7 separate regions of the Homo sapiens genome follow, and all the other regions are linked to region 3. Evidence: fine-mapped expression QTL. A gene starts in region 3. Each other region holds a variant in brackets. All regions are shown on one strand. Distances are between the middles of the regions.

Region 1 (4,000 bases), 110 kb before region 3:
AAAAGTCACATGATCATCTCAATAGATGCAGAAAAAGCATTTGACAAAATCCAGCATCCCTTTATGATTAGAACTCTCAGCAAAATCAGCATACGAGGGACATACCTCAATGTAATGAAAGCCATCTCTGGGCCAGGTGCAGTGGCTCACATCACACCTGTAATCCCAGCACTTTGGGAGGCCGAGGCAGGTGGATTACCTGAGGTCAGGAGTTTGAGACCAGCCTGGCCAACATGGTGAAACCCCGTCTCATCTAAAAATACAAAAATTAGCTCGGCATGGTGGCAGGCGCTTGCAATCCCAGCTACTCAGGAGACTGAGACAGGAGAATCGCTTGAACCCAGGAGGTGGAAGTTGCAGTGAGCCGAGATCGCACCATTGCACTCCAGCATGGGCGACAGAGCGAGACTCTGTCTCAAAAACAAAAACAAAAAAACCCAACCATCTATGACACACCTACAGCCAACCTAATACTGAATGGGGAAAAGTGGAAAGCATTACCTGTGAGAACTAGAACAAGACAAGGATGCCTGTTCTCACCACTCCTCTTCAACATAGTACTGGAAGTCCTAGCCAGAACATTCAGACAAGGGAAAGAAAGAAAGGGCATCCAAACTGGTAAAGAGGAAGTCAAACTGTCACTGTTTGCTGACAATATGATCGTTTACCTTGAAAACCCTAAAGCCTCCTCCAGAAAGCTCCTAGAACTGATAAAAGAATTCAGCAAAGTTTCTGGATACAAGATTAATGTACACAAATCAGAAGCTCTTCTATACACCAACAGTGACCAAGCAGAGAATCAAATAAAAAACTCAACCCCTTTTACAACAGCTGCAAAAAAAAAAAATACTTAGGAATATACCTAACTAAGGAGTCAAAAGACCTCTACAAGGAAAACTACAAAACACTGCTGAAAGAAATCATAGATGGCACAAACAAATGGAAGCACATCCCATGCTCATGGATGGGTAGAATCAATATTGTGAAAATGACCATACTGCCAAAAGCAATCTACAAATTCAATGTAATCCCCATCAAAATACCACCATCATTCTTCACAGAATTAGAAACAACATTTCTAAAATTCATATGGAACAAAAAAAGAACCTGCATAGCCAAAGCAAGACTAAGCAAAGAGAACAAATCTGGAGGCATCACACTACCTGATTTCAAACTATACTATAAGGCCATAGTCACCAAAACAGCACGGTACTGGTATAAAAATAGGCACACAGACCAATGGAACAGAATAGAGAACCCAGAAATAAACCCAAATACTTACAGCCAATTGATCTTCGACAAAGCAAACAAAAACATAAAGTGGGGAAAGGATACCCTTTTTAACAATAGCACTGGGATAATTGGCTGGCCATATGTAGGACAATGAAACTGGATCCTATACAAGATAGATTAAGGACTTAACGACCTGAAGCTATAAAAAATTCTAGAAGGTATCATTGGAAAAACCCTTCTAGACATTGGCTTAGGCGAGGATTTCATGACCAAGAACCCAAAAGCAAATGCAATAAAAACAAAGATAAATAGCTGGGACCCAATTAAGCTAAAGAGCTTTTGCACAGTAAAAGGAATAGTCAGCAGAGTAAACAGACAACCCACAGAGTGGGAGAAAATCTTCATAATGTATACATCTGACAAAGGACTGATATCCAGAATCTACAACCAACTCAGTAAGAAAAAAACAATCCCATCAAAAAGTGGGCTAAGGACATGAATAGACAGTTCTCAAAAGAGGATATACAGATGGCCAACAAACATGAAAAATGCCCAACATCACTAATGATCAGGGAAGTGCACATCAAAACCACAATGTGATACCACCTTACTCCTGCAAGAATGGCCATAATAAAAAAATAAAAAAACAGTAGATGTTGGCGTGGATGCAGTGATCAGGCAACACATTTACACTGCTGTGGGAATGTAAACTAGTACAGCCACTCTGGAAAACAGTGTGGAGATTCCTTAAAGAACTAAGAGTAGAACTACCATTTGATCCAGCAGTCCCACTACTGGATATCTACCCAGAGGAAAAGAAGTCATTTGAAAAAGATGCTTGCACATGTATGTTTATAGCAGCACAATTCACAAGTGTAAAATCATGGAAGCAACCCAAATGCCTATCAACGAATGGATAAACTGCTGTGTGTATATATGTATATATGATAGTGTGTGTGTGTGTATATATATGTATATAAGTATGTATATATGTGTCATATATATATATATATGATGGAATACTGCTCAGCTGTAAAAAGGAATGAATTAGCATTTGCAGTGACTTGGATGAGATTGGAGACTGTTCTAAGTAAAGTAACTCAGGAATGGAAAACCAAACATCTAATGTTCTCACTGATAGGTGAAAGCTAAGCT[A/C]TGAGGACGCAAAGGCATAAGAATGATACAGTGGACTTTGGTGACCTGGGGGGAAGGGTTGGAGGGGGGTGAGGGATAAAAGACCACAAATAGGGTGCAGCGTATACTGCTCGGGTGATGGGTGCACCGAAATCTCACAAATCACCACTAAGGAACTTATGTAACTGAATACCACCTGTACCCCAATAACTTATGGAAAAATAAATAATAAAAAAAGGGTTTAAAAAAGTATAGGAAGTTATTGGTGAAACGTGTGTACATATATATATGTACACACACACACACACATACATGTATGTACATATATATAAAAGATGTTCTGGGGGAAGAAAACTGACCCTAAATAGGTATTAAAATGCCTTTGAGCTTTGAGAGACTGAAGTTTTGCTGCATAGTGGACCTTAGAAAAATCTTTATGTGCCCAAATATAGATTTCTCATATTCTTAAGGACTGTGGAAAATAATATATAATATGGGAAAAAAATATTTTATCAGCTCTATTGAGGCATGATTTAAAAAATTTTACATTATTTACTAATAAAGAGAACTGTATTTTATTTTTCATTTACTATTCCTTGTGGTCTTCTATCTAGTTGTTCACTGCCTCATTGCCTCTCTGATTTTCAAACTTGGAAGTTATTGACACGCGTCTTTCTGGCCCTCTCCTCTGGAGCACCTCTCTGCTGCCAATTTTTTTCTGCCATTTTTTTTTTTGTAATTTAATTTAAAAAAAAACTTACTGAGGTGAAATTCACATAGCATGAAATTAACCATGTTAAAATGATCAATTTAGTGGCATTTAGTACTCTCATAGTGTTGTGTAATCACCATATCTGGTTCTGAAACCTTTCCTTCACTCCAAAGGAGACCCTTACCAACTACACAGTTTCTCTTTCCCAGACCCAGGCAACCGCCAGTCTGCTTTCAGTCTCTTTGGATTTTCCCTTTCTGGACACCTCATATGAATGGCATCACACAATATTTGTGAACTTTTATGTCTTCTTTTTTTTATTTTAAATTTTTTTTAGAGCTGGGGTCTCACTCTGTTGCCCAGGCTGCAGTGCAGTGGTGCGATCATAGCTCACTGCAGCCTTTTACCACCTGGACTCAAGTGAACCTGATTAGCTGGGACTACAGGCATGCACCACCACACCATGCTAATTTTTTTTTTTTTTTTTTTTTTTTTTTTGAGACTGGCTCTCTTGCCCAAGCTGGAGTGCAGTGGCTTAATCATGGCTCACGGCAACCTTTGCCTCCTGGGCTCAAGCCATCCTCCCACCTCAGCCTCCCAAGTAGCTGGGACTACAGGTGCGTACCACCATGCTCGGCTAATGTTTGTATGTTTAGTAGAGATGGGGTTTGGCCATATTACCCAGGGTGGTCTCAAACTCCTGAGCTCTAGTTAATTTTGAAATATAGAATATATTATTGTTAACTGTAGTCACCTTACTGTACAATAGAATACCAGAACTTATTCTTCCTATGTGATGGTAACTTTAATCATTCATCAACTTCTCCCCATCCCACTCCCTGCCCTTCCCTTTACTACCCTCCCCACCTCTCCGGCCTCTGGTAATTACTATTATACTCTCTACTCTTTTGGGAAGGGTGT
Region 2 (4,099 bases), 730 kb before region 3:
GCCTTAGAGTGAGCAGGATCAGTCAGTGCCCTGAAGGTAGAGCTAAGAGACTGTCCTTGCTGTGTGGGAGGCTGGTCTAGGGATGGAGGACTTAACAGGTCCTCCCAGTCTGTCAGGCCTAGACAGTATTGTCCTGTCTCAGGACTCAGAAAGTCCAGTCCTGAGATGGGACAGTGCTCCCCAGGGTGGGTGGCCAGGGCCTGACAGCAGTCCCCCAGGGAGTGACCACATCACCCAGCCGGGGTCCAGGGAGCCTGGCCTGAGACCTGCCTAGTGCATTGAGGTTGCACCTGGAGCCCACTCCAACTGATGCCCCCACAGCCCTCACAGGGTCTGACCTCCCAGCATGCACCTGCCTCTCCCTGCACCCCAGATGTCCACCCTACCTGTTCCCTGACTTCCTCCATCCTGTCCAGCAGGATGGGCTGGACAGTGGGACAGCCTTTGTGCACATTTTGTGGCAAGTAGGAGTGACACACCATCCCTGGGAGGCACCATGGTTCCTGCCAAACCCAACCCCAGAACTCTGTCCCTGAGGTGGTTTTACCAAAACCCAAAACCCAGAACTATGGTCGTGGCTCAGGGGTCAGCACCTGCTAGTACCAGGACACTACTGGGAGGCTGGGACCTGACTGAAGCCCATGATGTCTGTGGCCTGAGGACAGGGTATGTTGGGGCCATAAGGTCTGGCCACCAATGGCCATTGGGTCCTAGGGCCTCAGTCCCAGTGTTTGCCCTTCCCTGGCTCCTTCTGGTTCAGTCCCATTAGGGCCCTGGAGCCCAAGACCCAGCACCCAAGGTCCCCTCCAGGAATCCTGGCAGCTTGGCTTCCTTTATCATGTTTCATCTGAGAGCAAAAATGTCAGATCGCCCCCCCTCTCCCTCTCCCTCTCCCTCTCCCTCTCCCTCTCCCTCTCCTCCCTCTCCCTCTCCCTCTCCCTCTCCCCATGGTCTCCCTCTCCCTCTCTTTCCACGGTCTCCCTCTGATGCCGAGCCAAAGCTGGACTGTACTGCCGCCATCTCGGCTCACTGCAACCTCCCTGCCTGATTCTCCTGCCTCAGCCTGCCGAGTGCCTGCGATTGCAGGCGCGCGCCGCCACGCCTGACTGGTTTTCCTATTTTTTTGGTGGAGACGGGGTTTCGCTGTGTTGGCCGGGCTGGTCTCCAGCTCCTAACCGCGAGTGATCCACCAGCCTCGGCCTCCCAAGGTGCTGGGATTGCAGACGGAGTCTCGTTCACTCAGTGCTCAATGGTGCCCAGGCTGGAGTGCAGTGGCGTGATCTCGGCTCGCTACAACCTCCACCTCCCAGCCGCCTGCCTTGGCCTCCCAAAGTGCTGAGATTGCAGCCTCTGCCCGGCCGCCACCCCATCTGGGAAGTGAGGAGCGTCTCTGCCTGGCCGCCCATCGTCTGGGATGTGAGGAGCCCCTCTGCCTGGCTGCCCAGTCTGGAAAGTGAGGAGCATCTCTGCCCGGCCGCCATCCCATCTAGGAAGTGAGGAGTGCCTCTACCCGGCCGCCATCCCATCTAGGAAGTGAGGAGCGTCTCTGCCCGGCCGCCCATCGTCTGAGATGTGGGGAGCACCTCTGCCCCACCGCCCCGTCTGGGATGTGAGGAGCGCCTCTGCCCGGCCGTGACCCC[A/G]TCCGGGAGGTGAGGAGCGTCTCTGCCCGGCCGCCCCGTCTGAGAAGTGAGGAGACCCTCGGCCTGGCAGCCGCCCCGTCTGAGAAGTGAGGAGCGTCACCGCCTGGCAGCCACCTCGTCTGGGAAGTGAGGAGCCCCTCCGCCCGGCAGCCACCCCGTCCGAGAGGGAGGTGGGAGTCAGCCCCCGGCAGGCCAGCCGCCCCATCCGGGAGGGAGTGGGGGGCCAGCCCCCCGCCCGGCCAGCCGCCCCGTCCGGGAGGTGAGGGGCGCCTCTGCCCGGCCGCCCCTACTGGGAAGTGAGGAGCCCCTCTGCCCGGCCACCACCCCGTCTGGGAGGTGTACCCAACAGCTCATTGAGAACGGGCCATGATGACAATGGCGGTTTTGTGGAATAGAAAAGGGGGAAAGGTGTGGAAAAGATTGAGAAATCGGATGGTTGCTGTGTCTGTGTAGAAAGAAGTAGACATGGGAGACTTTTCATTTTGTTCTGTACTAAGAAAAATTCTTCTGCCTTGGGATCCTGTTGATCTATGACCTTACCCCCAACCCTGAGCTCTCTGAAACATGTGCTGTGTCCACTCAGGGTTAAATGGATTAAGGGCGGTGCAAGATGTGCTTTGTTAAACAGATGCTTGAAGGCAGCATGCTCATTAAGAGTCATCACCACTCCCTACTCTTAAGTACCCAGGGACACAAACACTGCGGAAGGCCGCAGGGTCCTCTGCCTAGGAAAACCAGAGACCTTTGTTCACTTGTTTATCTGCTGACCTTCCCTCCACTATTGTCCTATGACCCTGCCAAATCCCCCTCTGCGAGAAACACCCAAGAATGATCAATAAAAAATAAAAAAAAAGTCAGATTGGATGCACAGAAAAATGGCCCAAATTGTTTAATGACTAGAAGAAATATAGGAGCAGCAAGAATGTGATGTGAAGAGGGGAGGGCCTCCATGACCGGTGTCTGCAGAGCCAGGGGTACAGGCACCCAGTGTTGTGGCCTGGCACCACTGGCCTCTCAGAGGGTGGGTAGCACACTGTCCTTACCCGGAGGACAGCAGGCCTGATCACCAGCTTTTCTACCTGTCCCTGTAAGCATCACGTTGCTAGAAGAAAATCTCATGCCAGAGCTTGGACCATCCCTAGCTCAGAGGTTAGGGGTTGTCTCTTGGTGACCTACATGAAAAAATAGGTCCAGATCAGAGTTCCTGATGCAGAGCACTCATCCACTCTTTCAATCGTTGGAGGAGAGGCCTGGTTTTAGGTAAACCTAACCTCTTTGAGGAACCACAGAGCCCAAGACTGGAAACCTTCAGAATCTGCTGGCCCCCAACCCTCCCTGGGGACCCCTGTGGCCTGTCTCACCAGAGCACTCTTCTGTCTGTAGATGTCTCAGCGGCTCTACAAGGGAGTCCCATTTCAGGTGTGGGGCTGGGCATGGTCACTCCTGCTGGATGTCTAGAAGATGGAAACTAAGGACCTAGGAAAATGCCAGATACAGCCTTTCCACCCTCATCCAGAGCAGGACAAACAGGCCAGGTGGTGTCAGGAGCCCAGGTCTCCAGCTGGAGGGAACGTCAACCCTGCAGTGGGAGCAGGGGCCCATCGCACATCCTAGGCACAGATGCTAATGTAGGCACTGCAGGTAAGCTGGGCTTGGTACCCTTCCCTGGCTTCAGAAAGAAGCCAACAAGGAGCGTTTTGCAGAATGAAACCTCTTTTCCATCCAGAAGCACTGCTGACTGTAGGTGGTTGCCGTTTGTGGCAGTGAGCATTTTGTCCATTCTGAGGTTGGATTGGTTTCTTCTTTTGGCCTTGCCCTGCCCTACAGACCATAAAGGAGAACAGCAAGAGGCCCCCAGCAAACATCCACAGATGGCCCTGGACATCAGCCACATTCTGAGAAACATGTCATGTTCTGGGAGGGCTAAGGCATCAAGTTAGGCCTACGGGGCTGGATGATCCCAGGCAACGTGGGGCAATCCAGAGCCATGGGGGCTTTCCATGGGAATTGGGAGGTCCCAAGGCAGAGTCAGAGGTTCCACAGGAGGAGTCACAGAGTCACCAAGGGCTCTCCTGGCCCAGGGAGCAGTCAACACCATGGACTGAACACCTGCTGGGCTCCAAGCCCTGGGCCAGGCTGCCCATGTGGGGCCAGGAGGCAGCTCAGAGTGGGAGGCAGAGAAGTGTGCTCAGAGGGCACCTGTATCTGGATGTAATGTGGTCCTGAGACTGGCTGGGAAGTGCTTCCAGGGTATCATATGTGTTATGCAGTTACTTCCTCTCCCCAGCCTTACCCTGTAGGAATTCTAGTGACTATGTTGCCACCATCTTGGAGCTCCATGCCCTCATAGTGTAATGGCACCAGCAGATCTGCCTGTGCATGGACTTCCTGTACTACCTCACTCCTGAGGGGAGATGTTTCTGCAGGGCCTATGACCTGGTGCACAACTTTAGACACCA
Region 3 (4,099 bases):
AGCTATAAGGTAGTGTTTCAAACTTTTATAAAAGGGTAACAAGAACATAGCTGCTGTACTGAACTTTTTCACTCCTTTTATTAAGGCCACCAGTGAGCTATGAATTTGATATAAGGAGCAATCACACCAACAATCAGGCTGTGAATATATAATCCATGAGTTAACAACGAAACAGTCTTAGGAACGCAATTCTATCATAGACACCTGATGAATAGATGGAGTTCACCTGAGCAGCTGTTATATGCACTTCAATAGAGAGACTACAAAGCCTCTCTACTTGTAGAATACAAGTACAAAGAAGATGCTTTAAAACATTTTCCAAAGCACACTTAAAATGTGACAATAGCTGCCGGTCACTAAGAAGCTAAAGGGAGATAAATTATCTTGGCATACAGCAACAGAATGGTTTATTTTAAGCAAAGACTAAAAGGAGTCTAATAAAATTATTGGGAGACCAAGGCTAAAAGCCACAGATGCAGGAAGAGTTGCAGCAACCAATCCAAAAAAGTTTAGCCTTTCACAAAGAGTAGAAAGGCCAGCTGTGGACTGTGTGTGGACTTTTAGGTCCTTTTGCATTGAAGATTAGGGTGGCCTCCCCCTAGCCTCGAAATAAAAAATCGTCTCTGAAGCAGAGAGACAACAAGGCAGGGCATGAAGAGGAATCCAATCTATTTCTTGTAAATTAAATTCAACTCAACAAATATTTCCTGAAAATCTACTATGTGCAAGACATTGTGAACGATGCTTGCCTTACCTCAAAGGCTTCAAAATTTTATGGGAAAAGGGAAGCGAACGGGCTTCCCGGAAGTAAACAACCCAAGGGCGAATAGAAATGCCCTAAAAGAGGTGCCGGTCAGGCTTATCGGTTCAAAAGCAAGAAGGCTTTGGGACTCAAGAGTTTAGTCTCCCAAAGTGAGAGAAGTGGCGTTCAAGATAATTGCTGAAGAAAAGGCAGAGATATGGGGATGAAAGATAGGAAAGTAGGTGAACTTTAGGAAGAGCCAAGAGGGGCCAACTCTCGGTTCCCTCACAACTGCCAGTTTCCTCCCGCGCTCAGCCGACGTCACGCGCACCCGTGTCCGCGGGCAGGCGCCACGGTTCCGGACCAGACCTACCCCTCCTCTATTCTCCCCGCCCTTTCTCACCTCGGTCCAAACTCCTCGGTCTGCCCTGTCTGAGAAGAGGAGAAGACAATGCCGTCGGGAGTGAGCCCCAAAGCCCGCAACCTAACAGTCCCGTCAACCCGGGAGCCACCGGCGGCGGCCAGGCCGCATCTCCATGGCAACGCCGCCAAGCGCCAGTTCGAACGCCCGCGCTGTGGCCCGCGCGTCGCCAGTCCCGCACCGCCCACCAATGGGCATCCAAGGAATCGGTTGACGTTCGTTGACTTCTCCTCTGGAAGACCAATCAGAGGTCTGAAGAAACCGTGGGCGTAACTCTCAATTTCCGACCTTCAGCCAATCGTTCCGCTTGAGGGAAGATCTCGCGACGTTTCAGTGTGAGACGCGCACCTTTGAGGCGGGTCGAAGATCCTTCTGCCGAATTCTATTGATGGGCCCAAGCGTAACCAGGCTCTTCTGATTGGCCGGTGTACTTCAGTTTCCGTCCAAGGTCCGCCTCCTACCTCCTTCTGCTTCGGGTGAGTACCCTTAAGGGCCCACTTGATTTTAGTTCTCAGTGGAGGAAATGAGCCTTGGAGCGATGGGAATCTGCCTCTGGCAAACCTCTGGTCGCTGCAGGGCCCGAGAGGGATGCGCCCTCCTCTAAGTTGGCAGTGAGGTGTGGGCAGGCCAGGTCCCATCCGCTCTCAGGACCTCAGTTTTCCTGTCTGCACCGGGAGAAGGGAGGTTCCCTGACTCTGAGCCTTGCTTGTCCCCGTCGGAGTGGGGATAGGGTGGGTCGTCCAAATCCCAGAGGCGGGAGAGGTCCAGGTTTAGGGCCCAGAGGCCCAGGCGCCGAACCTTCCCCTCCCTGGGCCTCAGTTTCACTTGTTGCTACCCATTAAACCCCGCCTGCTTTCCAAAAGAGATTTTATGTTTTCTAATTGCTTCAGTTATTGAATGGATAATATCGTGGCAGTTATAGCAGAAGTAAAGAAAGTCGAACAAGAGCCCCACCGCCTTAAACAAACAAACAAAAAAGGGACAGCGTAAACAATGCAGGCCGGGTGCGGTGGCTCACGCCTGTAATCCCAGCATTTTGGGAGGCCAAGGCGGGCGGATCACGAGGTCAGGAGATCGAGACCATCCTGGCTAACACGGTGAAACCCCGTCTCTACTAAACAAAATACAAAAGTTAGCCAGGCGTCGTGGCGGGCACGTATAGTCCCTGCTACTCGGGAGGCTGAGGCAGGAGAATGGCATGAACCCAGGAGGCGGAGCTTGCAGTGAGCGGAGGTCGCGCCACTGCACTCCAGCCTGGGCGACAGAGCGAGACTCCGTCTCAAAAACAAAACAAAACAAAAAAAAACTGAATGCAATCAAATTGTCAAATGTAAAACGCTATTATAGAGTTAAGGTTAAGATCATTGATGTTAGGAGTCAGGCAGACCTACATTTGAGTCACTTACCCAGACATCTCTGAGCTATAGTTCCCTTTCTACTCTTCTGAAAAATGGCAGTAATGCCTCAGCGGGTTGTTGTGAAGATTAAGTGAAATAATGAAGGTAAAGCACTTGACACAACGCCTGGCGAGTAGTAACTTCTTAAAAAATGGTAGCGGCCGGGCGCGGTGGCTCACGCCTGTAATCCTAGCCCTTTGGGAGGCCGAGGCGGGCGGATCACGAGGTCAGGAGATCGAGACCATCCTGGCTGACACGGTGAAACCCCGTCTCTACTAAAAACACAAAAAATTAGCCGGGCGTGGTGGCGGGCGCCTGTGGTCCCAGCTACTCGGGAGGCTGAGGCAGGAGAATGGCACGAACCCGGGAGGCGGAGTTTGCAGAGAGCAGAGATCGCACCACTGCACTCCAGCCTGGGCGACAGAGGGAGACTCCGTCTCAAAAAAAAAAAGGTAGCTATTATTCTTATAATAAGAACAGGCAAATACACTAGTCAGTGCGTTGGTGTACTTTTTGTAACTGAGTACCCAATTTTGCCCAAAATTAGTCAGTTAAGGGAAAAAAGGTAATTCTTACTAATAAGGAAACAAATCCATTCTTCAAAAGATAAATTATTTTTCTAGTTTCTATATTAAAAGGAATTTATGCTGTGGGACCTTATAAGGAATATATATACTGTGGTGAACAGTGTTGAGCAGTTTAACAGACAAGATGAAAAGTCATTTCTTTAAAACAGAGAAGCTTTTTGATGATCTTTTATGACACACGGGTAACAGTAACTCATATATTTAGTACCTCTGATAATGTCAGACCCTCTATATATGTCATTTATAAACTCCACAACAACCATGCAAAGTAGGTGTTAACTTCATTTTACAAATGAGGAAGTTAAGTATCTTGCTCTAAGTATCTTGCTCTATTAACTTCAATAGCTAGGCCTTTCTGACTGCATAGACAGCCATGCTTTTCTGTGTTTCTGACTAAAGGAGGATGAAAATGCTTGGAATACCAGACAGATGCAGGGGCAGGTTGGACAGCTTGACTTACCTAAATTGGAGGGAATGTGAGCTGCAGAGGTACCTATGGTAGGAGCAATATCTTGCTCTAATAGAAAATTTTCACCGTGGTCTTGGTAGAGAAGGGAGGAGAAAAAAATTGTTTTAATAAAAATAATTTTAAAAAAGTAAATTCCCACCTTGGGAAATGAAGAGATAGGATGAGATGATCACTGAACTTTAGACCCATCTGTTCATTTATCTTATGGATAGACTATAGCACTTCAAATTCAACTTGTCCCAAACAAATGCTTCACTTGCACCCCCTCCTCCACCCAGGCACTCAAACCAAAGCCTTTCTCTTTCCCTTGGCTTATGAAACATCTCTCTGTCCCTTAGACAATGAAATATCACTATTGTCCATTTTACTTTGAAATATCTCTCAGATTCATCCCTTCCTTTCCTTTCTCACAGCCTCTGCCTTGATCTAACTGGAATCATTTGTTAACTGGTCTGTTGCAATAGACTTGTAACTGGTTAATCT
Region 4 (4,099 bases), 94 kb after region 3:
AGTTCTTCCAAAACTCATCCAGTCATTTAGTTAATGTTGCTTAAATACCTGCCAGAGGTACGGCCATGGTGCTAAGTGCTTTATCTATATTATTTCATTGAATCCTCCCCAAAACCAAGTAAGGCAAATATCATTTTCATTTTAAAATTGAAGAACTAGGTTGCATAAAGTAATATGTCCAAAGTCACACCTGGTAGGCAATTTGAATCTAATTTCCTCATCTCTCTTACCCCAGCCCCTTCTCAGAGACTTAGATAAAGTCATGAGATTAACAACGTACCAGAACTTACACCTCTGTGGGACTGTTGTCTTGCAAAGCAGTCACTTGGAAGGCTGGTACCTAGTTCAATCATGTCTCTGGAGCTCAACACAAACTTGTAGCCCCTCTTTAGAAAATAGCATGGATGCTTTCTGATCACAAGCTTCCTGCTCAATTGAGTTCTCCACAGGAAGGAAATATTGGAGCCACTGAAGCAGTCGATAGCTCAAGATGGAGAGAGAGACTGGCAGGAAGCAACAAGAAAGAAAATGCGTTGGAAACTGAGAATGGTGAGCCCAGGAGACAAAAGAAGAGGGCAGTGCAAGAAAAGGAGATGAAAGGGGCCTTAGCCACCAAATTCAGTTCTGGTCCTACATTTTAAGGGCATCTATATTCTAGGCACTGTGCTGGGTTCTGGACATATAAAAATAATATGGGCTGGGCGCGGTGGCTCACACCTGTAATCCCAGCACTTTGGAAGGCCGAAGTGGAAGGATTGCTTGAGCCCAGGAGTTTGAGACCAGCCTGGGCAACATAGTAGGACTCCATTTCTACAGAAAAATTAAAGAAAATTAGCCCGGCATGGTGGCACGTGTCTGTAGTCCTAGCTACTCAGAAGGCTGAGGTGGGAGGATCACTTGAGCCTGGGAGGTTGAGGCTGTAGTGAGCCATGATTGCACAGAGCGACAGAGTGAGACCCCTTCTTCTAAATAATAATAACAATAATAAGGCCCCTGCCCATGAAGAGCTCATAAGCCAGTGAGTGAAGCAAGTGAATAAGCAGATAATTTTAATCATATGCTGAGTGCTATGACAGAGGTTTGTATGTGTACAGGACAGAGGCAACTATCCCACTCTGGGGAATTAGGGAGGACTTCTCCAAAGAAAACTGATGGAGGAAGCAAGAATAGGAAGTATTAGTGAACCAGATGAGGAAAGGAGTGGCAAACAAAAAGAAAAAAGAAGAGAAAGGACTGGTGGGAAAGATGCACATGACTATAGAGCAGGCAAAAAGAACAGGTCAATTTTACTAGAATGTTAATGTTAGGGGACGAAGTGGCAGGTGATGAGTCTAGAATGACAGGAAGACTTAAAATCATGAAGGGCTTTGTAAGATATGTTCAGGGTTTTGGACTTCACCTGGAAATAATGGGGAGCCACTGAAGGATTTTCAGCCCATTGTCAGATTTAGATAGACTGACTGCTCTGGGAGCAGGTCCAAGGAATAGGCAGGAATGATTAAACTGGAGGCAGGGAGGCTAGATAAAGGTCATTGCAGTAGGTGACAAAGCTTGAAAAAGTCAGTGTCAGTGGGGTTGGAAAAAAGGAGGTGGAGAAGAAAAACATGTTGAGGTCAAACCGCTGGGGCACTAAGGCTGACTGGATCTGGGTTTGAGGGAAAAGACTTGAGCTAGGATGACTCCCAGGTTTCCTCCTGACTCAGGTGACTGCGTGAATTGTGATGCCACCAAATAAGATGGAGAAACAGAAATAAGAGTAAGGCTTGTGGTTTTGTTTTGTGTGTAAATATGTGTATGTTTATAAATAAGAAGGGCTTAGAGAAAAAAAATTAAGGAACACCAATATTGAAAAAGTAAGCAGAAGACTGACAGCTACGGTCAGAGGGGTAGGGAACCAAGAAGAGAT[C/G]AGAGTCATGGATGTCTAGGAAAGGCAGAGTTTTGAGAAGAATAATGTAAGACAGAGGAACCAGAACCGGAGTCCTAGAGGGGCTCTTGTATGACAAGAGAGACTGGAAAATAGTTGAGGCCGGGAGAAAGAACCAGCATAGAATGGCCACTTGTTTGAAGACATGAGGGAGGACTCAAGATGCTGTTCTCAGGCTTGCTGATATTTCAGCAAAAACTTATTTTGTTCTAAGAAATTATGGGTCTGATTCTTGTGAGGCTTGCAAGTCCTCACCGAGAGACATTCTCTAGTAGAAAAGTCCAGTCACGGTCCAGAGATCATGGCACATTTGCTATCTTTTAGGAAGTGTGGGCAAGGGGTGGGCTGAAGGCAAGGGAGGCTGACCAGGGCTTGGCCAAACTAGAGGCAATAGTAAGCAGTTAGGTGGGTAGTCGCCCCAAATTCTGGCTGCACCAGAGTCCCCTGACTTAGTTTTGGCCTATCGTCCCCAGGCTATGGCAAAAAGCAGCAAAGACCCTTGACTTCTAGTCCTTGAGGCAGGGGGCCAAAGCCAACACGGACCTACCAGGAGTGGCCTGAGAATCCAGAACACAGAGAGGAGCAGCCTGCGTTGCGATTTTCCCAGAACCCACAACACTTGTTCCACCAACAGTGAACATCCAGAGGGAGGCTCAACCATGGAACCTATACTCTGTTATGTGGTAATCATGCTTTCTCACCTTTTTGTTTTTTGAAATAGGGTCTCACTCTGTCACTCAGGCTGGAGTGCAATGGCACGACCTCAGGTCACTGCAATCTCCACCTCAGCTCAAGCAACCTGCCACCTTAGCCTCCCGAGGAACTAGGACTACAGGTGTGTACCACCACACCCAGCTAATTTTTTGTAGTTTTGGTAGAGATGGGGTTTTGCCATGTTGCCCAGGCTTGTCTCAGACTCCTGAGCTCAAGCGATCTACCCCCTCGGCCTCCCAAAGTGCTGGAATTACAGGCATGAGCCACCGCGCCCAGCCCTTTCTCACTTTTATTATTATTATTCCTTATGCCTAGTCAAAACTTTCTCACATTTAAACCCTTCAATAATAGTTTTCTGTAAAAATAAACAAATGAGGCCCACAGTGGCTCATACCTGTAATCCAGCACTTTGGGGGGCCAAGGCAGGCAGATCACCTGAGGTCAGGAGTTTGAGACCAGCCTGGCCAACATGGTGCAACCCCGTCTCTACCAAAAATACAAAAATTAGCTGGACATGGTGGTGGGTGCCTGTAATCCCAGCTACTCGGGAGGCTGAGGCAGGAGAATCTCATGAACCTGGGAGGCGGAGGTTGCAGTGAGCCGAGATCGTGCCACTGCACTCCAGCCTGGGCAACAAGAACAAAACTCTGTCTTAAATAAATAAATAAAATAAACAAATGAATAAATAAAAATAATCACTTGACTTAATTATTAGTCTTCAGAGCCAGTAATGTAGTCAGTAACCTGCATGCCTCCACTGTGCTTGGAGAAGTTGAAAAATGTGCAGTTAGTGTTAAGGGGAGATCCTTGTTCTTCTGTCTCCTGCATGCAAACACTGACACCTATGAGTGAGTGGGCAGTGCACTGAGGTGCAGGAAAGCCAGGCTCACACGAGGGCAGAGGACTGGCAGCCTCAATGAGGTTAGACTGACTTTTCCCAAAACTCTGACCTTGCGGACCTACTGCATTATTTAAAAAAAAAATCATATTCTGGGAAAGAACAGCCTGTGCTTGGCTATTTACAAAAGTAGGTCTGTGAATGCTGTTAGAGTTGAATGAATGTTTTATGCTATTTGGTGCATTTTAAGTAACCCAATAGGCTGAAATATTTTTGTTGTGAAGGGAATGCTTGTTCTGTACAATTAAATTTGGTTAGAATTAGAAACTCCAAAATTCCTTTGTTCCTATCAGGGGAGCAATAGTTTGTCTTCACCTACTCTGCAACCTTGTGGCTGTCAGAGGGTTAGTTATAAGGCCTTCACATCTGGGCTTCACAGAAGCACAGAATAGCCATTCAAGGAGTATTTTGGCTTTTATATGGACACCTAATTTCACAGGCAGTAGGATCCTGAATTTTTTATATAATGACTTTCACTCTTTCCACCACTCCCTTCTATTTTACACTCCAATGAAAACATCCCGAATGTTGAAACATCAGTGATTTTGTCCTGTTCCTATGTT
Region 5 (4,099 bases), 79 kb after region 3:
GCCTGCCTCAGCCTCCCAAAGTGCTAGGATTACAGGCATGAGCCACCATACCTTGCTAAGAGTCCTTATCTAGCCTTGCCATCCCCTCCCAAACACCCTCCTCTGCTGCAAGATCCAGGGCCGTGCAAGTGGCTGAAGTCATCCACATTCTCCCTGAGACTCTGAGGACCAAATATTGACAGGGGTGCTGCCATCCTAGCTATAGGATGGGGGTCTGGCTTCCCTTTAATAAGAGTAGATTCACCTTTATTTCATTTATATATCAGCCTGTTGCAACATTTTGGTTGGAGAAAAGGTTCTATTTTTTAAAAAAGGTTAAAATCTTTTGATTTTAAATGTTTAAAAATGTTTTATTATGGAAATTATAACAAGTAGAGAAAACAGTATAGTGAGATCATAGGTACCTATCAACAGCTTCAACAAATATCAACTTATCACCCATTCTTTTTAAAAATGAGGAAACCTGGGCCGAGAGGGGAAGTGTCTTACGCAAAGTCAGTGATGGAGTCAATAACCTTTCAAAGCATGCAGGGAGGGACATAGGGAAGAGAACATGATTTGGGCTTGGAGTTAAAGACAGGCCCTCTGGGAGGCTGCTCCATTCTTGCAGGCCCAAGCATCAGTCTGCATATTAACCTCTTCCCTTGTCTTTGCATTTTAACCAGGGCCTGTAGATTGCTAAGCCTAAGGTGCGAGGAGTGCAGAGGGGATCCAAGGCTGCTGCCTGTTCTGCCTTTGCGGATGCAGGGAGTAGACAGATGGGCATGTAGAATGCTGCCACAGTGTCAGGCCCAGGGATCTGAGTGGTTGCTGGTGACCTGGCAAGGGAAGGATATATAACCATTATGGTGGCTTCTGTTCCCTTTAAAATGAGGCAGTGGGCATGAAAACATGCTTGTCACTAACGGGAAAGGGAAAAGTCTAGCAGGTTTGAGAGGGAAATCCTGGCCTTGTCTGTGTTCCTTCAGGCCATCCAGAGCACAAGGCTCTGGGTGGGTTGTGTTGCCACAGTGGTTTGCAAGTTCCTGAGGGCAAAACCTGTGCCTCCCTCTCCTGCTTTGATCCCTAGCCCTTAGCCTTGACTGAGTAGAAGAAGGGCAGGAGGCTTTGCTCAGAGAGGCTGGGTGCCGCAGTGCCTGCATCTTGGGCAACTTCCCATGCTTCAAGTCCTTCATCCTCCCTGGCTCAGCAACCTCCTTGAGAGACTAATAGACAGCACCTGTCCTGCACAGCCTTGGAAAAGCAAACCTCTAGTGGCCCTGACATGCCTCTCTGCAGCCAAAACAGCCTCTCAGCAGCTGCTACCTGCAAGGGAGGTGGAGATGGGACAGCTGGGCTCTGGATTTCCTGTGAGCCCCAGAGACTGCTCACTGCAAAGCAGCCAGAGGGAAGGCTTTTTAAAGGGCAAATCCCATAAACATGCTGATAGGACCCTACCAGGGCAGCACTGGCACATTTCTAAGTCCCAAGTCACATTCCTTCACTTTTTTGGTAGCATTCGTCACATGTCACATATACCACATCCATTTGGAAAAGGCTTCCTCCCTTGGCTCATCTCTTGCCTCTTTGACTATCATTTCTCTGTCCTCCCACAACCCTTTGCCTCCTCTGTAGGGTCCTGCCCTTGGCCCTCCTCTCTCTCCTTGGGGAGCCCTGATGTCTCCTATAGTTCTGATTGGCATTTTTACACTGATGACTTCTAAATCTGTGGCGTTTCAATCCTGCTTCTCCTCCTTAACCTTCTAACCCATCTATCACATGAGAGTGTTAGGCCTCACCATCCTTTCCCTGGGGCTGATTTTTAAAAACACAATCCGTTAGACATTTGGAGCTAACTTTTTACTCCTCAGTGCAGATGAGTTCATCAAAGTTTCTTCTCTCAGTCTGGAGGTACTGGGTATAAATGGTAACATGGGAGGTAGATTTCACAGGAAGGACAGGGCTAGAAAGCTGTTGAGCAACTCTGGTCACAGGGACTCACATGTGGTCCTTGAGGCCTACTGGGCAGTTCCTGATGGTATTTGATCCTGGATGAAACTGCCAGCTCCTTTGGACCACAATTCAGGAGGGCCTGACCAGGGGGCAGAGCCCTAGGCTGAGGGGTCCCATGCAAAGCCCACCATTCAGCATCTCCTCCATCACTATCCATGACAGAAGGCCACCTTAGTGGCAAGCACAAAGATCTCTGGCACTGTGCCTGCAAACATAAGCCTTTACTATGAGCTTCCTCTATGTCTTCCCTTAGAAATGCAGCCAATGCACCACAACCATTGCATGGCAATGTAATCAGGGAGATTAAATGTAAAATATTCATGAATGTAAGTATCAGAAAAGACTCCAGGCAGAAGGAAGTGCCTGGCTCCAAGAAATCAGGGA[G/A]AATTTAAAGTGCCCCCCAAGGACATCTGAAGGCGTTAGCTAGATCCGGGAACTAGAGTGGAGATTAACAAGATTATTAATAAACACTCAGCAGAGACAGACATTGAAATGCATCTCTAACAGCAGCCCATGTTTCTGCAACCCTTCAAATAAATTCTCTGAAGACTACAGAGATGATTAATAGCCCAGCCTCACTGTTTCTGGGACAGGATATATAGGCTAATGGCTAGTGCAAAGCCAATATAGCTAGAGGAAGGCAAAAGCATCAGAAGAATCCTTAGAATTATAATAGTTTGGTCCACTGATTTTCATTAAACTGTGTTCCCTGAGTGACTGTGAAGGGGAAGCTATAGGATGTGGGTCTGGTTTCCCTTTAATAAGAGTAGATTCACCTTTATTTCATTTATATATCAGCCTGTTGCAACTTTTTGGTTGGAGAAAAGGTTCTATTTTTTAAAAAAGGTTGAAATCTTTTGATTTTAAATGTTTAAAAATGTTTTATTGTGGAAATTATAACAAGTAGAGAAAATAGTATAGTGAGATCATAGGTACCTATCAACAGCTTCAACAAATATCATCACCCATTCTTTTTAAAAATGAGGAAACCTGGGCCGAGAGGGGAAGTGTCTTACCCAAAGTCAGTGATGGAGTCAATAACCTTTCAAAGCATGCAGGGAGGGACATAGGGAAGAGAACATGATTTGGGCTTGGAGCTAAAGACAGGCCCTCTGGGAGGCTGCTCCATTCCTGCAGGCCCAAGCATCAGTCTGCATATTAACCTCTTCCCTTGTCCCCCTGCCCCAGGGCTGTACCAACTCATGAACTGTCTTTAGCTGGCTGGCCTCACTTGTTGGAGCTGTGGGTAGTGCAGTCAATACAATGGTAGGCTGGGACCCAAGAGATCCCAAATAAGCAGGATAAAATTGGGTGGTAAAAAAGGGAAACAAATGAAAAAAACCAAAGTGTGGAACCTTCAAGGCTCATGCCTGGAGTCTTAAGAAGGAGGATCTGGATAAGTAGATGGAAGAGTCTGCTTTCCTGAATGACCCGCAGACTTTTATGGGCTACTCTGGTAGGACTCTAGGTGGCAAAAAATAAAACTTGTAGAGGGTCTTGTAGTTCCTAATGTATGTCTTCAGATCCACGAGCTTATCTGATTCTCATAAGTACCCAGTAGACATGTGATTGCCTCCCCAACATTCAAATTATACTCCTCCTCCACTGGGCAACAGACATATGGCTTGGATGGGCTGACCTCACTCTCAGTGCCAAGGGGATGCTCTGACTAAAGGAAGACAATCTACACAATCCCATCCTCCTTGCCACACAGACTGAAAGAAAGATTGTAATGGTTAAAAGCACAGACTCTGGAGCCAGAGTGCCTAGGTTCAAATTCCAGCTCCTCCAGTTAGTAGCTGTACAATCTGGGTTTCAGCTTCCTCATCTATAAATGGGACTAACACTAATACCTAGTTCAAGGGTTCTTGTGAGGATGAAAGGAGTTAATATGTATTAAAGCAGTTAGAATAGTCCTTAGCATAGTATACCCTTAGCACTATATCCATGTTAACTGTAAAGATATCATTAGTATAGGTTCAGTGAGGCCTATACTATCATGGTCAGTGTGCCCTGGGAGTGGCTGGCCTGTAGCTGTAGCCCTGACACCACATAGGTTGGAGCCTGGCTTATATATGAAGGTATCTGTAGAAAAGGTGTGCCCTCC
Region 6 (4,064 bases), 30 kb after region 3:
CAGTGAACATAGGATTGTAGATATCTCTTCAACATACTGATTTCATTTCCTTTGGCTATATACCCAGAAGTGGGATTGCTGGATCATCTGGTAGTTCTATTTTTAACTTTTTAAGAAATCTTCATACTGTTTTCCATAATGTGTTTCTTCTTTTTTGTGATAGGTGTTTACAGCTATAAATCTCCCTCTAAATACTGCTTTCACTGCCTTACATAAGTTTTAGTATATTTTCATTTTCACTTATCTTGAAGTATTTTTTCTTTTTTTTTTTTTTTTTTGAGATAGAGTCTCACTCTGTCGCCCAGGCTAGAGTGTAGTGGCATGATCACAGCTCACTGCAACCTCTGCTCCCCGGGTTCAAACAATTCTCTGCCTCAGCCTCCCGAGTAGCTGGAATTACAGGTGCCCACCACCATGCCTGGCTAATTTTTGTATTTTTAGTAGAGACAGGGTTTCACCATCTTGGCTAGGTTGGTCTTGAACTCCTGACCTCAGGTGATCCACCCGCGTCAGCCTCCCAAAGTGCTGGGATTACAGGCATGAGCCACCGCACCTGGCCTATCTCAAAGTATTTTTAAATTTCTCTTGTGATTTATTCTCTGATCACTGGTTATTCAGGAGTCTGTTGTTTAAATTCCACACATTTGTTAATTTCTCCAACTTCCTTCTGTTATTAATTTCTAATTTTATTCCATTGTGACTATGGAATATACTTTGTATGATTTCAGTCCTTTTAAATGCATTGAGACTTGTTTTATGGAATAATAGATTATCTACCTTGGAGAATGTTCCATGTGCTCTTGAGAAGAATATATATTCTGTTGTTGCTCATGGAGTATACTATAGATGTATTAGGTCTGGCTGGTTTGTATTGTTCAAATATTCTATTTCCTTGTTGATCTTCTGTCTAGTTGTTCTATGTATTATTGAAAGTGGGGTACGGAAATCTCCAACTATTATTGTTTTTTTTTTTTTTTGCCATGGAAAAACCCTCTTATTTATTTGATTAAACAAAAATAAAATAAGCTGCATAGGAACAATTTTAAAGTCCACAGAGACACCAACCTTGTTTTAGGGCTGCAGTAGTTGATATAGCATCTCCGCTGCCTTCTCCAGCCTACTCTGTGGACCACAGCAATACATTCAAAAGCCTGTTAGCTAACGCAGGTGTTTTTGAACACTTTTCCATTGGCTCTTCACCTGCTTATTGCCTGTCATACCTGCAGCCTGCAATCATAGCATTTAAGATTTAAAGGTGAAAGCCAAAAGAAAAACAAACAAAAACTCACTTTTGCCTAAAGCTTTGGGGGAAATGTTGATTTCCCCACCCATCCAGTGAATTGACAGAATTCACACCACCATGGCAATATCCAGTTAAAAGAGGCAAAAGGCAGTCAGCACCCCAGAGGAACTTACAGCATGGTTTCTGCAGCCGGAGGAGTTGTTTTGGTAGTACGTCGTCCTTGAATCATGTCTGCCTTGGACAAATAAAAATTAAGAGGTTTAACTTAATCATTCTAACATAGGCAACATGCCCATGTTAATCCCCCCAATTCTGCATTTACTTTTTTTCTTAAAAAAAAAAAATAAACTCAACTGAATCATATCTTCTGCAGTTAAAAATTGAAGCACTAGGCTGGGCGCGGTGGCTCAGGCCTGTAATCCCAGCACTTTGGGAGGCCAAGGCGGGCAGATCACAAGGTCAGGAGATTGAGACCATCCTGGCCAACATGGTCTTTTTTTACTACTAAAAGTATAAAAAAATTAGCTGGGCAAGGTAGCGCATGCCTGTACTCCCAGCTACTTGGGAGGCTGAGGCAGGAGAATATCTTGAACCCAGGAAGTGGAGGTTGCAGTGAGCTGAGATCACGTCACTGCACTCCAGCTTGGCTACAGAGTGAGTCTCTGTCTTAAAAAATAAAAATAAATAAATAAATAAATAAATAAAGCACTAGCTACTTGGGAGGTTGAGGTGGGAGGATCTCTTGAGCCCAGGAGGTCAAGGCTACAGTGAGCCATGATCACACCACTGCACTCCAGCCTC[G/A]GCAACATAACAAGATAAATAATAACAAATAAATAATAACAAGTAAATAAACAAATAAATAAAGCATTTTGCCAATATAGCTCAAGGTCTAATGGACAGTATTAAGCAAGATTCTAAAAAAATACTAACAACCGTCCCATCCACCCAAGTATACCTAACATGCTACTGAAAAACAACAGCCCTTACCAACCCACCTGCATTGATCTCAGGAGAAAAGGAAAAAAGAATGAAATCTTACCACCCTAAAAACAAGATAACCCCAGGAAAAATATTTCTCTGAAGAAAGACAACTACAGAGACTGCTAGAAACATAAAGAATGATTACAGAGCTGGTTATTTAAAGCAAGTAAACACTTTGCTACACACATTAACATTCAGTCAGTGTGCTCTAAGACAGTCTTAAGGAAAACAGTACCTGAGCTTGTAAGTTAATACAATCATTAAAAGAAGGTCTAAGATCATGTGGATACACAAAACCTTCAGAACCATTACTGGTTAAGTGATGATGGCAAACATCCCACCAGGCTGGCTTGTTAACCCATAAGATGAATTTTAAAAACAGACATACTTGAGGTGTCTCTTCACCATGGTATTTATAAGCCAAACTCATGATAATGACAATGGTTTTGGACCCTCCTCTCTTCTAACCAAACCAAAAATTAACTAGGGAAGAAAAGAGGCAGGAGGGCCAATACGGTATATTCTGGTAATGTGCCTCTCAACTTCATCAAGTATTTAATAAACAAGTAAAGGGAAAAAACAACCCATCAACGTGTTATTTTGGTAGAAAAAAATTAAAACACAAAACAAAAGAGCAACACACACTTCATCAGTCATTGCTCAGTAAAAACGGTGATTGTCCAATATTATTGTTATTTATATATATGTATATATATGTGTATATGTATGTATGTGTATGTATATATATATGTTTATGTATATATTTTTTTGTTTGTTTGTTTTTGTTTTTGTTTTTGAGATGAAGTCTTGCTCTGTTGCCCAGGCTGGAGTACAATGGAGCGATCTTGGCTAACTGCAACCTCCGCCTCCCGGGTTCAAGCGATTCTCCTGCCTCAGCCTCCTGAGTAGCTGGGATTACAGGCACCCACCACCACGCCCAGCTGATTTTTGTATTTTTAGTAGAGATGGGGTTTCACCATATTGGTCAGGCTGGTCTCGAACTCCTGACTTAGTGATCTGCCCACCTTGGGCTCCCAAAGTGCTGGGATTACAAGCATGAGCCACCGCGCCACCGCACCCAGCCCCTTTTCTTTTTTATAATAGCGATGGGGTCTCACCATATTGCCTAGGCTGATCTTGAAGTCCTGGGCTCAAGCAATCCTCCCACTTCAGCCTCCCAAAGTGCTAGGATTACAGGTGTGAGCCACTGCGCCTGGCTGTTGTTATTGAAATGTCTAGTCTGCCTTCAATTCTAACAGTTTTTGCTGTATGTATCTTTGGACTTTTTGTTTCACCCAACTTTTATGCTAAAAGTAGAGTTAGACTAAATCATAATTGATCATTGAAGTCCATTAAAAGTGGGTCAAATTATATGTGTTACACTATTTAAAATCTTGCTTATCATTGTATATCACTTTTTAAATAGAATGTAATTTATTTTGTGGCCAGGCGCAGTGGCTCATGCCTGTAATCCTATAACTTTGGGAGGCTGAGGCAGGTGGATTGCCTAAGCTCAGGAGTTCGAGATCACCCTGGGCAACATAGTGAAACCCTGTCTCTGCTAAAATACAAAAAATTAGCTAAGTGTGTTGGTGCGCACCTGTAGTCCCAGCTACTCGGGAGGCTGAAGCATGAGAATCATTTGAGCCCGGGAGGCAGAGGTTGCAGTGAGCTGAGATCACGCCACTGCATTCCAGCCTGGGTGACAGAACAAGACTGTCTCAGAAAAAAAAAAAAAAAAATAATTTATTTTGTGCTTTTGATTTTTTCTAGAAATTTACTTATACGAAAAGAACTATTTATTTGTTTTAAAGAGATGGAGTCTTACTATATTAGCCAG
Region 7 (4,000 bases), 120 kb before region 3:
TTTTGGGCTCAGGAGTTTGAGGCTGCAGTGAGCAATGTTCATGCCACTTCACTCCAACCTGGGCTGTTCAGAGCAAGACCCTGTCTCTAAAAACAAGGATCAACAAAAATTAAATATGCTTTCATTTCTGGTTCTTTTTTCTCTTTTCTCTGTCAGTTTTTGGTATCAGTGTTATGCTGATCTCATACGAGAACTTGGAATTCAGCAACATTCATTCAGCAGGAGTTACTGAGCACTACTGTGGCCGGGCACTATGCTTGGTGTAATGGTGAATGAGACAGAAGTGGTATTTGTCCTCGTAGTGCATAAAGGCAAGTGGGGAAGACAGACAATAAACAAATCCTGAATAAATTGATAAGCTACAAATATATATTTGTTTCCATTTTATGTGTTGGAATAGATTAAATAAAATAGGAATAATCTGTTTCTTAAATATTTAATAGAACTTTAAAGACATCTGTTCTGACATTTATTTTAGCATACACATATTTCATAAGCATGTGAAATTACTTAAGAACCCCTTTTCTCTCCCCATAAATCTTTGACACCGTGTGAAGTTGTTCCATCCTTATATTGTTTTTCCTTTAGGCCTACAGTGTTCCCCTGGGGATTTGAGTTTTCAAGTTTTGTGAACAAGGCTGTATTATTTCTGTGGGAAAAATCATTCAGGTTTCACATGATGGAAACAGAATGATACAATCCACTGAGTTTGAAGACTCCAGGAAGAACAAAAAATTATATTTGCAATTACTTATTTCAGGTCAAATTAATAGCTTCTAGTATGATAACTTTTTTTTGTTTTAAAATTAACCAGTTAAGAGACTGGGCGTGGTGGTTCATGCCTGCAATCCCAGAGCTTTAGGAGGCCACAGTGGGTGGATCAGTTGAGGTCAGGAGTTTGAGACCAGCCTAGGCAACGTGGTGAAATCCTGTCTCTACTAAAAATACAAAAATTAGCTGGGTGTGATGGCCCACGCCTGTAATCCCAGCTACTCGGGAGGCTAAGGCACAAGAATCTTGCTGCTGCACTCCAGAGTGCAGACGACAGAGCAAGACTCTGTCTCAAGACAACAACAACAAAAAACTGACCAGTTAGTATTGTATTAGTTACTTGTAGAGGAAAATAGTATCAAATAGTAAGGATTTTCTTATAAAAAACAAAAAAAGGGTGTGGATTGTATATACTTGCTGAGTCAAGTATACTTGTCTTTCTGAGTCAAGTAAGTATACACAGTCCACACCCATTTTTTTTTTTGAAGAAAACACCCGTTTGTTTTTATGTGCCCTCAGAATTAAGATGAAGTCTTGTGCTATCTTTTTAATATGTATAAGACTAGAAAAACCAGTGAAATTCATAGTTAGAAAATAATCTATCTCTAGTCCTTTAATTCTGGAAAGAATTCCAGAGATCATTTACTCCAGTAGTAGTCTTGTTTTATGGAAGAAGCCCTAAAAGTTCTTTTTTTTTAAATTTCAGAGGTTTTTACCCATTCTACAAGTCTTTTAATTGCCTCAGGTGCTCTTGTCTTTCTTGCCTTCTGGTATGAATTGTGATATGATTTTTGGAGTTGGGAAGGAAATTATATTTTTGGTTCAATAACTTGTTGACATTATTTTTTTGCCAACCAGTCTTTATTCAGTTGCAAGAATTAAATTGATAGGTTCGTGGTCAGATTTCCTCTTGAGGACACTGCACTGAACTCTCTGAAGAAAATACTTTAAATAAATTGTAATGAATTGGTTAAGATGCTGACTTGAAATTTCTGATTGGCTAATGCTTTAATTTTTATTTTTTTTGAGACAAGTTCTCACTCTGTTACCCAGAGTGAGAGTGCAGGCTGGAGTGCAGTGGCGCCATCACTGTTCACTGCAGCTTCGACCTCCCCAGGCTCAGGTGGTCCCCTGCCTCAACCTCCTGAGTAGCTGGGACTACAGGTGTGTGCCACCACACCTGGCCAGTTTTTGTATTTTTTGTAGAGACAGGTTGTCACTATGTTGCTCAGGCTAGTCTTGAACTCCTGGGCTCAAGTGATCTTCCAGTCTCCCAAAGTGCTGGGATTACAGGCCTGAGCAGTCACACCCAGCCCTGGCTAATGCTTTGAAGTCATGACTCCCATTCTGATTTTTAACTAGTCATTACTTTCCTGTTCTTCCATTATGGTAGTCTCACAAGACTTATAATTTCAGACTTTTTATTGGTAACTACAAGAGATTATTGTTTTAGCTTTTTCATTTTAAAGATATTGTTTTGTCTAGTTGTATTCTGAAATTACATGTTAGGTATAATTATTAGTTGTACAATTAGCTATTAAATTTTCAGAAAGTTTGAAGGGAGA[G/A]AGTAAGTGAAAAGCCACTCCTGCTAAAGATTAGACACTGTACTAGATGCTTGGAGGATTAAGAGGAGACCAGAGCTAAGGGAAATCTTTGTCTGGATTTTATTGACCCATTTTGGAATTAGCTGCAGATCTTAAGAAATCAGATTGGGTTGGCAGGACGTGGTGGCTCATGTCTGTAATCTCAGCACTTTGGGAGGCTGAGGCGGGAGGATCACGAGGTCAAGAGATTGAGACCAGCCTGGCCAACATGGTGAAACCCCGTCTCTACTAAAAATACAAAAATTAGCCAGGTGTGGTGGCGGGCACCTGTAGTCCCAGCTACTCAGGAGGCTGAGACAGGAGAATGGCATGAACCCCGGAGGTGGAGGTTTCAGTGAGCCAAGATCGTGCCACTGCACTCCAGCCTGGTGACAGAGCGAGACTCCGTCTCAAAAAACAAACAAACAAAAAACAGTTTGGGTCAATAATTTGCGTTTACAGTACTAGTTTATGTACTTATTTGTCACTTTGTAATTTTTAGGGAGTTGCTTTTCAACTGTAATCTGTTTTTATTAAACTATTTGAAATGAGCTTTGTATTCAGTCACTAGTTGTGTTTCTCCCTTCCAAGTACTAACCAGGCTCAACCCTGCTTCTGAGATCAGACAAGATCAGGAGCGTTCAGGGTGGTTTGGTTGTAGACACTAATTGCTTTGCTTATAAGCCTTAAGGATACCTTACAATTAATAACTTTGGTAAAACCTCATTTGAAAAATAAGACTAAGCCTGAGCCAAACGGCAAAATCCCATCTCTACAAAAAATTAGCCGAGCATGGTGTTGGGTGCCTGTGGTCCCAGCTACTCAGGAGGCTGAGGTGGGAGGATCACTTGAGCTCGGGAGGTTGAGGCTGCAGTGAGTCAAGATTGTGCCACTGCATTCCAGCATGGGTGACAGAGTGAGACCCTGTCTCAAAAAAAAGAAAAGAAAAAAGTAAGACTAAAATCAGTTAGTGACAAAACTTATGTATTACAGCATCTTGACTTAAAAAAAAAACAAACCAAAACCCTTCATTTTCCGAGTTTTTCATAAGCCAGGTATTTTCTTAAATTTGAAGTCTTAGAAACTTAGGTTATTTTGGCTCGCTAGCTGTATGTGTAGAGTGAAAATAGTATTTCTACATTTGGTCAGTTGCATAATGTTACTATACCTTTGATCCATCTGGAATTTATCTTGGTATGCAGTGTGAAGCAAGCATCGGATTCTGCTTTTTTCTAGGTGACTACCCAGTTGTCCCATGACTTGATTTTAAAAAGCAGCTTTATTATATACCAAATGTTTATATTTTGGGTATTTTTAGGGATTTCTACTTTGTTCCACTAATCTGTATTTGTACCAGTACGACACAGCTTTCAGTATTGTATCTTCTAATATTTTAATATCTGATAGGCTAGTCTCCATTTTCTTCGGAGATTTTTTCTTTTTTTTCTGCGTTTGCTTAATTGTTATTTCTTTTTTTTTTTTTTTTTTTTGAGATGGAATTTTGCTCTTGTCGCCCAGGCTGGAGTGCAATGGTGTGAGCTCAGCTCACTGCAACCTCTGCCTCCCAGGTTTAAGTGATTCTCCTGCCTCAGCCTCTGGAGTGGGTTAGGATTACGGGCTCCCGCCACAGCTAATTTTTGTATTTT

What was found. PIP is the estimated chance that this variant, and not a neighbour inherited with it, causes the effect.
Region 1: its variant is fine-mapped to the expression of NUDT2 in sigmoid colon (GTEx, PIP 0.94).
Region 2: its variant is fine-mapped to the expression of NUDT2 in hypothalamus (GTEx, PIP 0.98).
Region 4: its variant is fine-mapped to the expression of NUDT2 in whole blood (TOPMed, PIP above 0.99).
Region 5: its variant is fine-mapped to the expression of NUDT2 in anterior cingulate cortex (GTEx, PIP 0.96).
Region 6: its variant is fine-mapped to the expression of NUDT2 in sun-exposed skin (GTEx, PIP above 0.99). The same link has a PIP of 0.9 or more in gastroesophageal junction and left ventricle.
Region 7: its variant is fine-mapped to the expression of NUDT2 in whole blood (INTERVAL, PIP above 0.99).

Annotation. Positions count from the first base shown.
Region 1 is chr9:34,213,094-34,217,093 of GRCh38, forward strand. The region is part of intron 1 of UBAP1 (ubiquitin associated protein 1); the gene reads left to right. Among named protein-coding and RNA genes, the nearest start is that of UBAP1, 36 kb to the left of the region's middle. The variant A/C (reference allele first, on the strand shown) is at 2,389.
Region 2 is chr9:33,599,345-33,603,443 of GRCh38, forward strand. It overlaps the pseudogene CYP4F26P. Among named protein-coding and RNA genes, the nearest start is that of PTENP1-AS, 76 kb to the right of the region's middle. RefSeq lists an enhancer at 670-1,610. The variant A/G (reference allele first, on the strand shown) is at 1,641.
Region 3 is chr9:34,327,961-34,332,059 of GRCh38, forward strand. NUDT2 (nudix hydrolase 2) reads left to right here and starts at 1,609. Exons shown (of 5, transcript NM_001161.5): 1 at 1,609-1,639. It overlaps KIF24 (kinesin family member 24), which reads right to left and starts at 1,308. Exons shown (of 13, transcript NM_194313.4): 1 at 1,146-1,308. RefSeq lists enhancers at 975-1,034, 1,135-1,234, 1,322-1,829, 1,365-1,554.
Region 4 is chr9:34,422,189-34,426,287 of GRCh38, forward strand. All of the region lies in intron 1 of FAM219A (family with sequence similarity 219 member A), which reads right to left. LOC124902145 (a long non-coding RNA gene) reads left to right here. Exons shown (of 3, transcript XR_007061465.1): 2 at 450-549; 3 at 2,398-2,657. Among named protein-coding and RNA genes, the nearest start is that of SPMIP6, 26 kb to the left of the region's middle. The variant C/G (reference allele first, on the strand shown) is at 1,907.
Region 5 is chr9:34,407,044-34,411,142 of GRCh38, forward strand. All of the region lies in intron 1 of FAM219A (family with sequence similarity 219 member A), which reads right to left. Among named protein-coding and RNA genes, the nearest start is that of SPMIP6, 11 kb to the left of the region's middle. The variant G/A (reference allele first, on the strand shown) is at 2,377.
Region 6 is chr9:34,358,445-34,362,508 of GRCh38, forward strand. No RefSeq gene overlaps it. Among named protein-coding and RNA genes, the nearest start is that of MYORG, 16 kb to the right of the region's middle. The variant G/A (reference allele first, on the strand shown) is at 2,045.
Region 7 is chr9:34,203,225-34,207,224 of GRCh38, forward strand. The region is part of intron 1 of UBAP1 (ubiquitin associated protein 1); the gene reads left to right. It also overlaps the pseudogene RNA5SP282. Among named protein-coding and RNA genes, the nearest start is that of UBAP1, 26 kb to the left of the region's middle. The variant G/A (reference allele first, on the strand shown) is at 2,337.